Linked DNA regions of Homo sapiens: all the other regions are linked to region 2. Evidence: fine-mapped expression QTL. A gene starts in region 2. Each other region holds a variant in brackets. All regions are shown on one strand. Distances are between the middles of the regions.

Region 1 (4,241 bases), 26 kb before region 2:
AACACCATACCTCACTAAATTCAAAACCACTGCAAGTAATGAGTGAGAGACTGCTGTGGTGAAGGAACGAAGGCACATTTCTCTCCCTGCACTCCAAATATCCTATACCCTTTCTAGCTTTTGAGTTGACATTGATACATCTTTCCTTTCTTTTTACAGGCAAAAGATAATTTCTAAGAATGAAGAAATTTGTGAAGGATGTTCTGGGAGATTGGCCTCTATTACTGTTTCTAAGGATGATTCTGACACTGTGCAAGATGGTAGCAAGAAAGGACAAGAATCATAAACAAAAAGTTGCTCTGCATTGTTGAAGATGGTTGGCACACCATTTCTGTAGGCCCAGGAAACTCCTGGGAGGGTTTTCTTGAGAAAATGCATATAATGAGTTTAGTTCTTGGGTTGCTCTGACTCTCTGAATGTCTGAAAATGTTTGAATTCGCATCTGAATTTCACAGCTTATCACGGACTCTTCACTGAAAAATGATGCTCTCCATACTGGGAGCTGAGCTTTCTCTGAGTTTTGTACTATTTTTCTTCTACCTTGACGTATTTCGTTAGAAAGAAACTGATTTGAAGGCCTTCTTCATATTGAACTTTTACTATATTTGGGAGGTGTACCTTTGTCCCCTGGGGCATTTAGGTAGCAAAAAAAGATGATGTGTTGATTTTACTCTAAAATATTTTTCTCTCACACCCATGCCCCCTACTTCCCTACCTCTCAATCATGTTCCCTAACCTATGACTTAGGAAGGGTTTCTGATGATTCTTACCACCTCCTCTGGACCATCACCAGAATTCAGACACCCACAGTGCAGGCAACATAAATAAGTGAAGTGGGCTAGACATAAGGAAAACAATTGCCCAAGCACAGTGATAAGTGGCAACCAACAGCAGCCTCAGTAGAGGGGCTTGGGCAGGGCTGGGGCACAGCGGATGGGGAAGAGTGACCCACAGAGCACTGTCCCATCTGAAGAAGGTGCTTCTCAGACCTTTGCCATGCAAAAGCATGAGGTCAATATTGTCAGATAGTATGATTTTTTAAAAGAAGTTATTCTGGTTTTTATGTGATATCTCCTAATTTTTAAACATTGACAACAAATTTTAAAAATACAACTGTGTGTGCCGATCATGGGAGACTCAAGTAGAACATGTCTGTAGTCCAGATGTTTTCCACCTGTGAGATGTCATTGGCAGAAACCAAAACCAAACACAAAAAATCTCCAAGGAGCAATAAGATCAAATTATATTTTATTCTATTAAAAAATGTTTTTGAAAAAAGATACTTAAATTTTAAAGATAACTTAATTCCTAATGATTTAAAATAATCCAAGCAGAGATGAAAGAGCAAATGCAAATGCATAAAAAGACCCCAGAGCATTGTTAGCAAAAAGCAAATATAGTTAGCCAAGCATATATATATCATAAAAGCAATAAGAAGGCATAAAGCAAGTTTGGGGAGAGCTTATTTAAAACTTGTAAAAATCATTTGAATTTTTAAAAGATTTCAAACAAATTTTGTTTTATTAAAAAAAAAATTTTTTTTGAGACGGGGTCTTGTTCTGTCACCCAAGCTTGAGTGCAGCGGTGTGAACATGGCTCACTGCAGCCTTGACCTCTTGGGTTCAAGCAATCCTCCCACCTCAACCTCCCAAAGTGCTGGGATTATAGACATGAGCCACCATACGTGGCTACTTTCTAATTTTTTTAATGTGGTAGTGTGGAATTTAGCTTTGAAAGAGAATTAAAGTTAATAGAATATTAACAGTGGGCTTATAGTTGATAGATAACAATCTGAATCATAAGCCCTCTATATTCATAGCTGGATTTTGTACGTGTCTGGTATTTATTGCCACCAGCTAAAAACATTCCCAAAGCCTTAAGCATAAGAGAAAGGAGACAGTGTTATTGTTGTTAATATCCTATTTAACTTTAGCTCTTATAAAAAAGTGCAAAACAATTAATAAAGTAGAAAATCTAGAAAATTAGTAAATAAACATAGTGTTATATCTAAATAGTACCATCGGCCAGGCGCGGTGGCTCACGCCTGTAATCCCAGCACTTTGGGAGGCCGAGGTGGGTGGATCACGAGGTCAGGAGATCAAGACCACCCTGGCTAACACAGTGAAACCCTGTCTCTACTAAAAATATTTTTAAAAAATTAGCCAGGTGTGGTGGCGGGCCCCTGTAGTCCCAGCTACTCGGGAGGCTGAGGCAGGAGAATGGC[C/G]TGAACCCGGGAGGCGGAGCTTGCGGTGAGCCGAGATCACGCCACTGCACTCCAGCCTGGGCGACAGAGCGAGATTCTGTCTCAAAAAAACAAAACAAAACAAAACAAACAAAATAGCACCATCAATCAGAAGGGAAGACAAGTTTTTTTCTTAGTGTGAAAGTAGGCTGAGGCATCTGTTTCCCCATGTTTTTCTTGTCATCCTTGTTGCTTACTTCATAGTTCACTTCAGTCAGGATGGTGAGAATATCATCGCCTCTGAAATACATCACATAATATTGTGACTGTCTGTGGGGGAAAGCAACTGATGAACTGTCTCCTCTGCTGTGCTCAGAGATAGTTCTGTAGTTCTTTCTCTCAAAATATCAGTCATTTGAAACAATAAGGTGCGAAACCAAGACCTACCCCAGCTTTCCTGGTAAATGGGTTGTCTCAGAGCTTAATAACTTACTTTTGGTTTATTCAGGAACTCTTTTGACCATCAGAAACCTCGGTGTCAGTATTAGAGTTGGTTTCTTTCTCTCCTGACCTGTGTGTCTCTCACTCTTCTCCACGTTACTTGGCTCCCCATTGCTTCAATGCCCCCCAATACTCTCTGCCTCGAATTGACATCGCATCTGCGGATTCATCTTTGATGCAATTAAACTTAAGGCAAGTGAAAGTATAACGTCTCCTGCAGCTACTCCCACCTTCTTCTCACCAGGATCTCTTAGCATTTTTGTTAGGCAACCTCTTCTTCTACCTTGGTAGCTAGCCGCGGAAACCTTGCAGGATTCATGATCTAAGTTACGAAATCTAAGTTAGATTCATGATCTAAGTTACGGGAAATTCTCACTCTTCATATACTCAAAACATGAAATACAGGGCTAGAAGGAACCTGCTATTTATCTCCCATAATGCACCAAGAGGTTTTGAGGATGGTTTGCTATTATAGAACTTTTGACAGAGTTGGAGGATGTTTAAACATTGAATTGGGTTACTGCCTTCTTGGAAGATTTCCAAAACTAGTTGAATTGGCTCAGTCATGTTTTGGCCTAAAGACAGAGAGCTGGAGTATATGACTTTCCTATCCTTTCCTGCTCTGTGATACCCTGATTGTCCTTTGAGGTGCTGAATAAAGGAATAAAGCATCTCAGCTTTTCCATCTATAAACTAAGGATGTTAACACTTGCCACTCTCCCACTTTGTAACTGACCTGGGAAATGCAGCTATGTGATCTACAGCTAGACATTTAGAGTTGAACGGAAACCACTCCCCTTGGACAGTTCTCTGACCTGTTAATGTGATCTAAATCACATAGCACTTTCTAATAGGCTCTGAATATGAGTAGATAGTAGTGTGATGGAGTAGGGGGGGAAGGTAGTGTAACAGTGAGGAGGGCTGAGTAGGCAAAACTTACCGAGGACATCGCTCTCTCAGGCTCTGGCAAAGTGACTGGATGTACCAGGTTCCCTCTGCAGGGTTTCGGTAGGAAACACAGTTATTCACAGTGGCCATCCCCAGCAGAAAGTCAGCCTCATCCGGGATATATCTCGTTTGAGGTGATGATAAATCCATTTCTAAATAGGGTTGCTCCTCTGAATCAGTCTCAACAGGTATACCTTTCTGGTAGTTATCCCCCTGACAAGCCTGAATAAAAAACACTTTGGGTTTTCCAGCAAGGGAAGGGCACTTCAAACCAGTGAACTGAGATGTCAGCTCATAGATGGGGGCCTCCTGTCCATCAGTGCCATAGATGATGCCCTTGTCTCCATGGGAGAGGATACAGCAGATGAAGCAGTCCATGTTACTGTGGTCCATGAGTTGGTAGATTTTCAAAATCTCATAGATTTGCTCTACTGTGCAGTCATCGTGGGGCTTGATCTCAAAATGAAGCTCTTCAAAGGTCGTGGTCAAAGCCCCTGAAAAGTGAAATTTGAACAGTCACGTTATACCACAGTAATTCACAGACCACAGCTGGAGAGCACAGTGGGCATAACATTGATAGATAAGAATTTGACCCCTCTCCCTCTCCCTC
Region 2 (4,241 bases):
TGACATTTAGAAGGGAAAATGCTAACGTGGCTTCTTCTCTGGCCTAGGTGTTCCAGGATACACTGTCAGATGATAGTCAGCCTTTTCTGTTTTTTGTTTTTTGCTTAAGTTACACATCCCTCTAGTCATAGTACCTAGAAAACAGTCACTTGCAAAGGATTTATGACACCATTAACAACGGGCCATCCAGCACTGTAAGGGGAGAGACATCGTGTGGCAGTTCTTGTTTTATGGGACCTAGATTTTCTGCACTAGCTTATGGGCTAGAAACTTTGTTAAGCTAGTATTTTTTAAACAATGTACTTGTATTTTTGGTTCCTAAAAACAGTAAAAGTAACACTTGTTTCATAGAGAAAGTACAGAGAAGTATAAAAAGAAAATAAAAATTACTTAAAAACTTGCCATTTGGAAGTAATTCTTTGGTCACATTTTGTGGCCTTTTCCCAATTTTTTTTCCACATGTATATATAACATATGTAAATTTGAATATGTTGCCATGTAATACATATATTTTATATAATCTCTGCTAAATAGTAAATGTATATAAGTCTATTTGTATTACATAAGTATATTTATTATTTTATATATTTATGCCCCAAAGTATTTAAATATAAATATGTGTTTATAATAATCATATAAATAAATGATATATAAATGTTTGTAATCTATATATCCATATAAACATAAAAATATTTTTTAACCTCATTTCACTAAAAGCCTCTGAAGAAACTACTATTACTGTCCCCATTTTTCTGTTGTGAAAAATCACGGCTTGGAAATAAGCTAGTAAGAGAGAGAGCCACAGCCAGATTTAAGTGTCTCACTCAAGGGCTTCAGTGACAGATCACAAAGATTTAGACGTCATTCTACTTGCAGCTGGAAGGCAGTGAAAGAATCTCATGAAGAAAAACATAAAATCATAACTTTTTTAGAGAACAACATTTCAAAAAATTTTATAATAACAAAGCCACAAAAACAGAAGTTCTTAACAAATCCACTATAGGAGAGGGGGTTAGAGCCTCACAAAGGAAGTGCTAGAATCTAGGCCCCAGCATCTCATTCCAGAGTCCCATTCTACCACTGTATTACATGTCACAATTAAACTGTAAATACATTCCATCTCATCACAATCATTCCAGTAATATTCTAGCAGCATCCTAGCTCTTGCAGTGATAACTAAAAAGCAAAACATGCATTTGCCATCGGAAGCAGAAACCTGCATCTCATCCGAAGCTTGAGAGAACCTGAAAGCCACTCGCTCTCAGGCCCAAACCCCTAACCGGCAGGTAGTATTGCCACTCCCTCCAATCCAGGCTGGCTGCCTCAGACTGCGGGCTGCCCCGGAACCTGACAGACATCCATTCTGCACGCACATGATGTCCATAACAGGGCGCTGCAGCCACGGCATTCAAACAACCCAGCAAAGGTGTCCAAACCTCAGCAAAACATATAATCCCATCATTTTCAAACAGAATGAAACTTGCAACTTCACCTGTAAATTCTTAACCCCACAAGTGCAGGTCTCTGATTGTGTCTATCTAGTCTTCCCATTATATTGTTTTTTGAACTGTTCTGTATCTTTTTAATTTTTTTTTTTTTTTTTTTTTGAGACGGAGTTTCGCTCTTGTTGCCCAGGCTGGAGTGCAGTGGCACGATCTCGGCTCACCACAACTTCCACCTCCCAGGTTCAAGCGATTCTCCTGCCTCAGCCTCCCGAGTAGCTGGGATTACAGGCATGCGCCATCATGCCCGGCTAATTTTGTATTTTTAGTAGAGACGGGGTTTCTTCATGTTGGTCAAGCTGGTCTCAAACTCCCGACCTCAGGTGAACCACCGCCTCGACCTCCCAAAGTGCTGGGATGACAGGCGAGAGCCACCACGCCCAGTCTTTTTTAATTTCTTTAAAAAATAAATAATTGAATTAGTAGGACCACATGGGTGTGTTTGTGTGTATGTGTGTGTGCGTTTATGTTGGCAAGTGTGTATGTTGGTGGGTATGTGTGTTGGTGGGAGGATAGCTGTAGCAGCAAAGTCAGTAGAGATTTAAATTTTGGCTTCTATTATTTCACAAGTTTGACTGGGATCAGGATGAGGCCTTTATACAAGTAGTTAAACTTGCAGCATTTCAGAAGCTCCTAGGACTTCATCAGTCTAAGCTAGAATGGCCTTCAGATCTGGAAACTGCACGGCCCTCGGCAAGGCTCTCAGAGGGACTGCTACCTCTTACACTAACTTCATGGTTTCCCCATCCACACTCACATACGAGGATCACCTCCATGGCCCCAGGGCCACCCGATCTCACTCTCAGCAGCCTAGAAAACTCCAGAATCAAAGGCCTTCCTCCCAAAAGGCCCCTCTGACCTTAACAAAGAGGCAAATCCTTACCTTACTCTCACGATGGTAGCACCTTCGTCACAGGCCTATCCACTACCATCTGAGCATCTAAGACAAGAGCAAACGTCTAATGAAGGACGGAAGGGCACAGCCAGCCAGCTCTACTTCCTGTTTCGAAACTCCTGAGTCACAAACACTAGAGGGGAAAGAGCGCTTACCACTTGCCCCTGAGTGAGCAGAGTGCCTTCTAAAGCTTCTAAAGCTGCAGGAAAAAGGCCTGGTGGTCCAGGAGACCGCACGCAGGGCACCTGGCCACCTGAGCACTGGCCCCTGGCTGTGACTTTGGATGGGCCATTTTACCTTTGGGGCCTCATTTCCACATTCCAAAACAAGGACGTTGGACTGGATTGTAACTAAGAACACTTTCATTTCATATTTAGGATTTAAAGATTTTTCTGGGTTCATCATTAAGACTTTAATTTTTTCATTCAATGAATCTTGATGGAGCACCTCAGAGAGGTCTTGAGATTGGACACTGCAGAGCCCTCTCATCTTGGTTCTCAGGGTGGCTGTGAACTTTCAGAGCTAAAGCCCCTGGTTTAGCCAAGGAGCATCTCTGTGGCCCCAAGGTCACCAGATTCCACCCTCAGCAGCCTAAAATACTCTAAAATTAAAAAAAAAAAAAAACTCTAAAAAGAAAAAACTCTAAAATGAAAAACCTCTAAAAAGAAAAAACTCTGAAATAAAAAAATTCTAAAATGAAAAAAATCTAAAAAGAAAAAACTCTAAAATGCAAAAACTCTTTGGTAAGATGGTAAGTCCATCTTACCAAAGGTGATCCTTGTATATGAGTGTAGCTGAGGAAACCATGAAGTTAGCTGAAAGCTGGGTTTACCATCTTATCAAAGAAGCAAATCCTGGGGCCCTCACCATGTTGGGCTCTAGGGATATACCAGTAAACAAAATATTGCCTTCATACTGAGAGTTAGATGAAATGTTTTCTGATATTAAAAGTAGGAAAAGAAAATCAAACACCTCTCTTCTTTGAAACTGCCTTTTGTCTTTCCCCAAATAGAATATAAGCTTTCAGAGGGTAGGGACTCATAGCTGAGAAGACTGAACGAAGTATCTGAAAAGGACTCTTCACCAGAGAGGGCTAGGTCAAGATGGCCTCATAATATCAATGCCTGGATGGCCACCGTGGCTCATGCATGTAATCCTAGCACTTTGAGAGGCCAAGGTGGGAGGATCCCTTGAGCATAGGAGTTTGAGACCAGCCTGGGCAACAAAATGAGACACCATCTCTATGAAGAAAAATTTTTTAATTAGCCAGGTGTGGTAGCACGCGCCTGTGGTCCCAGCTAATCTGAAGGCTGAGATGGGAAAATTGCTTGATCCCAGGATGTTGAGGCTGCAGTGAGCCGTGATTGCACCACTGCACTGCAGCCTGGGTGACAGAGCAAGACTTTGTCTCAAAAAATAAATAAATAAAAAAGAAATAGAAACAGAATGAGCAAAATAAAATACCAATAGTATTAATATGCAATAATAATTGCTAACTCGTGTAGTAAGTGATGTATGCGTATTATCTCCTTCAAGCCTCACAGTCACCTCTGGAGGCATTATTAATCATTTAATGATGAGATAACAGAGGCACAGAGGAATTACTTGCCTGAGATCGCATAGTTAAAAAACAGTGTACACATACAAAAGAAAAATACATTTTGCAAAGATACAGATAAATTCACGAATCCACATCAAAACATTAGAGAACTGTCTTTGGGGAACAAGAGAGAGGGCAGGAGGGCAAGGGTGGGGGTGGAGAGATAAAAGGAAACCCTTCAGACACGGAAGAGGGGGAAGGGGCTGTGCACCTCAGGGCATCGTGATTCGACAGAATGACAGAA
Region 3 (4,241 bases), 61 kb before region 2:
AATATTGAGATGTGAAGTACTCTTCTCTTCATCATGTTAATTGTTATGTATATAGCTTTTCTTTTTTCATTCTGTTATTGCTTTATAGACTTCATGAGTTTTAAGCTTTCAAGAGATTCTATTTTGGTGCGTATTTGGCTTTTGTTTCAATGTTTAAAACTCCTTTTAGCCCACCTTTCTTTCTTTTCTTTCCTTCCTTCCTTCCTTACTTTTTTTTTTTTTTTTTTTGATAGAGTCTGGCTCTGTTGCCCAGGCTGGAGTGCAATGTTGCAATCTTGGCTCACTGCAAACTCTGTCTCCTGGGTTCAAGAGATTCTCATGCCTCAGCCTCCCAAGTAGCTGAGATTACAAGCATGCACAATCACACCTGGCTAATTTTTGTATTTTTTAGTAAAGACAGGGTTTTGCCATGTGGCCAGGCTGGTAGCATTTCTTGTAGTTTGGTTTGCTAGTGACAAATTCCCTCAGCATTTGTTTATCTGAAAATGACTTTTATTTCTCCTTCAATTACAAAACCTAGCTTTACAGGATACAGAATTCTTGGCTGACAGTTTTTTTCTGTTTAAGGAGATTGAAGATAAGACCCCAATACCTTCTGGCTTGTAAGGTTTCTGCTGAGAAGTCTGCTGTTATTCAGATAGGTTTTCCTTTATAGCTTACCTGATGCTTTTGTCTTACTGCTCTTAGAATTATTTCCTTCATGTTGAGTTTAGATAGCCTGATGACTATATGCCTTGGTGAAGATCTTTTTGCAATTAATTTCCCAGGAGTTCTTTGAGCTTCTTGGATTTGGATATCTAGATCTCTAGCCACGCCAGAAAGGTTTTCCTCAATTATTCCCTGAAATAAGTTTTCCAGACTTGTTATTTTCTCTTCTTCCTCTGGAACACCAGTTATTCTTAGGTTTGGCTGTTTAACATAATCCCATATTTCTTGAAGACTTTGTTCATTTCTTTTTATTCTTTTTTCTTTATTTTTGTCTGATTGGGTTAGTTTAAAAACCTTGTCTTCAAGCTCTGAAATTCTTTCTTCTACTTGTTCTAGTCTATTGTTAAAGCTTTCTGCTGCATTTTGTATTCCCTAAGTGTGTCTTTCATTTCTAGAAATTCTTATTGTTTTTTCTTGATAATATCTATATCTCTAGAAAATTTTTCATTCATATCCTGAAATGCTTTTTAAATTTATAATAGTTTTCATCTTTCTCTGAAATCTCCTTGAGTAGCTTAATAATTGACCTTCTGAATTCCTTATCTGGTATTTTAAAGAGTTCGTCCTACTTTGGATCCATTGCTGGAGAGCTAGTGTTATCTTTTGAGGGTGTTATAGAACCCTGTTTTTTCATATTACCAGAGTTCCTTTTCTGGTTCCTCCTCATTTGGGTAGATTATTTCTTCTAATTATCCTTGAATTGATGTTTGATTTGACTGTGTTTCTTTTTGTGTTTGTTTTTTAATTTCTTTTTTCCACTTAAGGATGTGACTTTAATGCTTATCATATTATGGCCTAATTTGGTTTTTGGTGCTTTCAGGGGTGAAGACTCTGTAATAGTTCCTTGGTTATAGAGAGTTTTTTTATGTGGCTTTCTTAGATGCTGGTTGTAGTAGCAATGTGCTTGGTATATTAGCAAGATCACTGTCTCCTATGGGGCTGTAATGATAAGAGGTCTCTTAAAGCTTATCTCATTCCCCTGTGGCATGCCCTTTTTTATTTACGCATTTTCGTCCAGTTTTTTTTTTCTTTTTTTTTTTT[G/T]AGGCTGAATCTCACTCTGTTGCCCAGGCTGGAGTGCAGTGTCATGATCTCACTGCAATCTCCGCCTCCTGGGTTCAAGTGATTCTTGTGCCTCAGCCTCCCAAGTAGCTGGGATTACAGGTGCCTGCCACCACACCCAACTAATTTTTGTATTTTTAGTAGAGACAGGGTTTCACCATATTGGCCGGGCTGGTCTCGAACCCCTGACCTCAAGTGATCCACCCGCCTCAGCCTCCCAAAGTTTTGGGATTACAGGCATGAGCCACTGCACCCGGCCTTTTCTCCAGTGTTTTATTTACTAGTTTGATGGTTCCAGCTTCAGGCCAGTAGGGGAGGTGTCCCTGGGTAGGAATCAGCTGTGGCTAAAGCAGGTGGGTAAATGCAATACCCAGTGATGGGCAGAGGTCTCAGCCTTGACAGAGGTGGCTGGAGGAGTGAGTTGCAATGAGGTCTTACCTGGGGTAAGGGTTGGAGCCACCTCAGCTCCCCTGCCAGGTTAGCAGGAAAGTTATCCCTCTCAAACACACTCCTGTTTCAGTGCTCCAGCTTTTCATCTCCAGACAGCCACCTCTTTTCATCTGCAGGAATTTTGATGTTCCAAATAGAGAAAAATTGTGAACGTCTCTCATACAAGCTTGAACCTAGAGGGTGCCCCTCCTATGGGGATGCAGTCACCCTGATGTCTTCCAGAAAGACTGTCTATAGTTGCACTCACACCAAGCTCCAATGGGAGAAGCTCCAACTGTGCCTGCAGTGGTAGACAATGGGTGGGGGGGTTGTCTGTCTGTTGGGTTAGAGCTGAAGACTTTTCCTGCTGAGCCCAGCACTGCAACTGTGCCTCTGCTGAAAGAAACTTCCCACTAGCAGAAAGATCTGGTTCTTAAGTCCTGCTGTCTGGATTATTTTCTCCCACAGGGTGTTCTCTTGATGTGGTGCACTCCCTGTTCCCCTAGGATCAGGGGGATCCCACTCCTAAGGGAACAGGGTCTCTGGGTCTAGCTGTCCAGTGAAGGTACCACACCCCAGGCTGGTGCTAGGGAATATCTGCAAGGGATCCAGTGATGTGACCTCTCTTCAAGTCTCCCAACAGTGGGTAGCAGCACCAGTTCTAATGGGCGTGGCAGGGTAATAGACTCTGTGAGAGTCCTTGGTTATTGATAGCCTTAGTGTGTTGGCTTTCTCGAACACTGGTTTTAGTAGTAATGAACTGGTCATGTGGACAAACTCAGGACCTCCTGGTTAGCCAGAATGGTGCAGGCAGTGGTGATAGCTGAGATTACACAGCCATCTTCTTCCTAGGTGCGTTGTTATTCTACCAGGAGATGCTGTAATGGACTGTGTTGGTTGGCCTCCAGCCAAGAGGTGATGCTTACAAAAGGGAACCAGCTGCAATAGTAGCAATAGGACTTTTGCTTGCTTTATGTTGTCCAGAGGGGTTACTCTGGTTTCTCAGGCAATGAGTGGGGCTATATAGCCCCCAAGAGTTTCTGTCCTTTGTGTTAAACTACCAGGGCAGGTGACGGGGCAAAGCAGGGTGAGGGTTGGTTCAGGTGGGCTTGCGCTCTGAGTCTCCCTGTGCAGGGCAAGCAGCAGCCCCTGTGGAAGCCAGGGGATGGGAGTGGTTCTCAGGCCACTGGGTTGATGTTCCAAAAGGCAGTGTTGCTGGCTTTGCCACACAGAAGGGTTTGTGCAGAGTGAGGAGAAGCAGGTGGCTGTGAGCCCCACACAGATCCCATGCACTTGGCAAGACAGATGCACTCCCACAGTGTTCCACTGGCAGCAGCAAGCTAAGTTCCAGTTAGCCTGCACTCAGAACTTGCAACTGTCCCGAGTCATATACGTTCCCTGCAGAGATAGCAATCACGGCTTTCAGGCCAAGCCCCTCCCTGTCCACTGCAAAGCCAGGCACCCAGTTCCTGCACTGGCAGCTCCTGCACTCATGGCTGCAGCCCACTTTTCACTCTCCTCCACCCTGGCCCTGGCCAAGGGAGTTCATCCGCACCTAAGGTTATATCATGAAACCCAGTTGGAGGCTTCTTTCAACCTGCGACCACTGCCTGAACTTTTTGGCTGTCCTCCACAGGGTTCCCCGTGAGGAACAGTAAGAAATGGCTTCCCTCTCTCCATGCTGAAATCTGGGAGTGTGTGCAAGAATCTTCCTGCCACTGCTCCCACTTTTATATTCCACATCCCTCCCCAAGTCAGTTCCTGTGCTGCATAGGGTTAGGGCTTTCTCCCATGGTCTGGACTTTCAGGGTCCACAGTGGGGGTGTGTATTCCAGGAGTAATGTAGGGTGAGTCCCCCTTCTCACACTCTGGGAACTCACAGCCCTTTGCCTGATTCACAGTGTAACCTGCAGCCTCCTGCTTCCTTCAAAGGGTCTGTAGATTCCTTTGGTTTTCCTGTTCAGTTTCTGCATTGCTCCTTGAAAAAAGTTCAGTGTGAATCTCTACAACTATTTTGTTTTTCCAAGTGGGAGAAGTATGCTAGC

Direction of the effects. Positions count from the first base shown, and alleles are read on the strand shown. Sizes are in standard deviations (SD) of each study's normalised expression. Not every link is listed here.
For the expression in prefrontal cortex of the gene that starts at base 2,463 in region 2, allele T in region 3 goes with a lower level than allele G (large effect, 1.0 SD a copy in BrainSeq).

What was found. PIP is the estimated chance that this variant, and not a neighbour inherited with it, causes the effect.
Region 1: its variant is the best candidate, but not a certain one, in a credible set for the expression of CASP8 in whole blood (GTEx, PIP 0.58).
Region 3: its variant is the best candidate, but not a certain one, in a credible set for the expression of CASP8 in prefrontal cortex (BrainSeq, PIP 0.71).

What each region holds. Positions count from the first base shown.
Region 1 is chr2:201,284,700-201,288,940 of GRCh38, reverse strand. It overlaps CASP8 (caspase 8), which reads right to left. Exons shown (of 9, transcript NM_001372051.1): 8 at 3,624-4,125; 9 at 1,232-2,482. The coding sequence ends at 2,347. It overlaps FLACC1 (flagellum associated containing coiled-coil domains 1), which reads left to right. Exons shown (of 15, transcript NM_001127391.3): 15 at 160-670. The coding sequence ends at 286. Among named protein-coding and RNA genes, the nearest start is that of CASP8, 26 kb to the right of the region's middle. RefSeq lists a cis regulatory region at 439 and an enhancer at 367-511. The variant C/G (reference allele first, on the strand shown) is at 2,225.
Region 2 is chr2:201,258,758-201,262,998 of GRCh38, reverse strand. CASP8 (caspase 8) reads right to left here and starts at 2,463. Exons shown (of 9, transcript NM_001372051.1): 1 at 2,386-2,463. RefSeq lists an enhancer at 4,159-4,241.
Region 3 is chr2:201,319,772-201,324,012 of GRCh38, reverse strand. All of the region lies in intron 9 of FLACC1 (flagellum associated containing coiled-coil domains 1), which reads left to right. Among named protein-coding and RNA genes, the nearest start is that of FLACC1, 35 kb to the left of the region's middle. RefSeq lists enhancers at 3,052-3,551, 3,552-4,053. The variant G/T (reference allele first, on the strand shown) is at 1,750.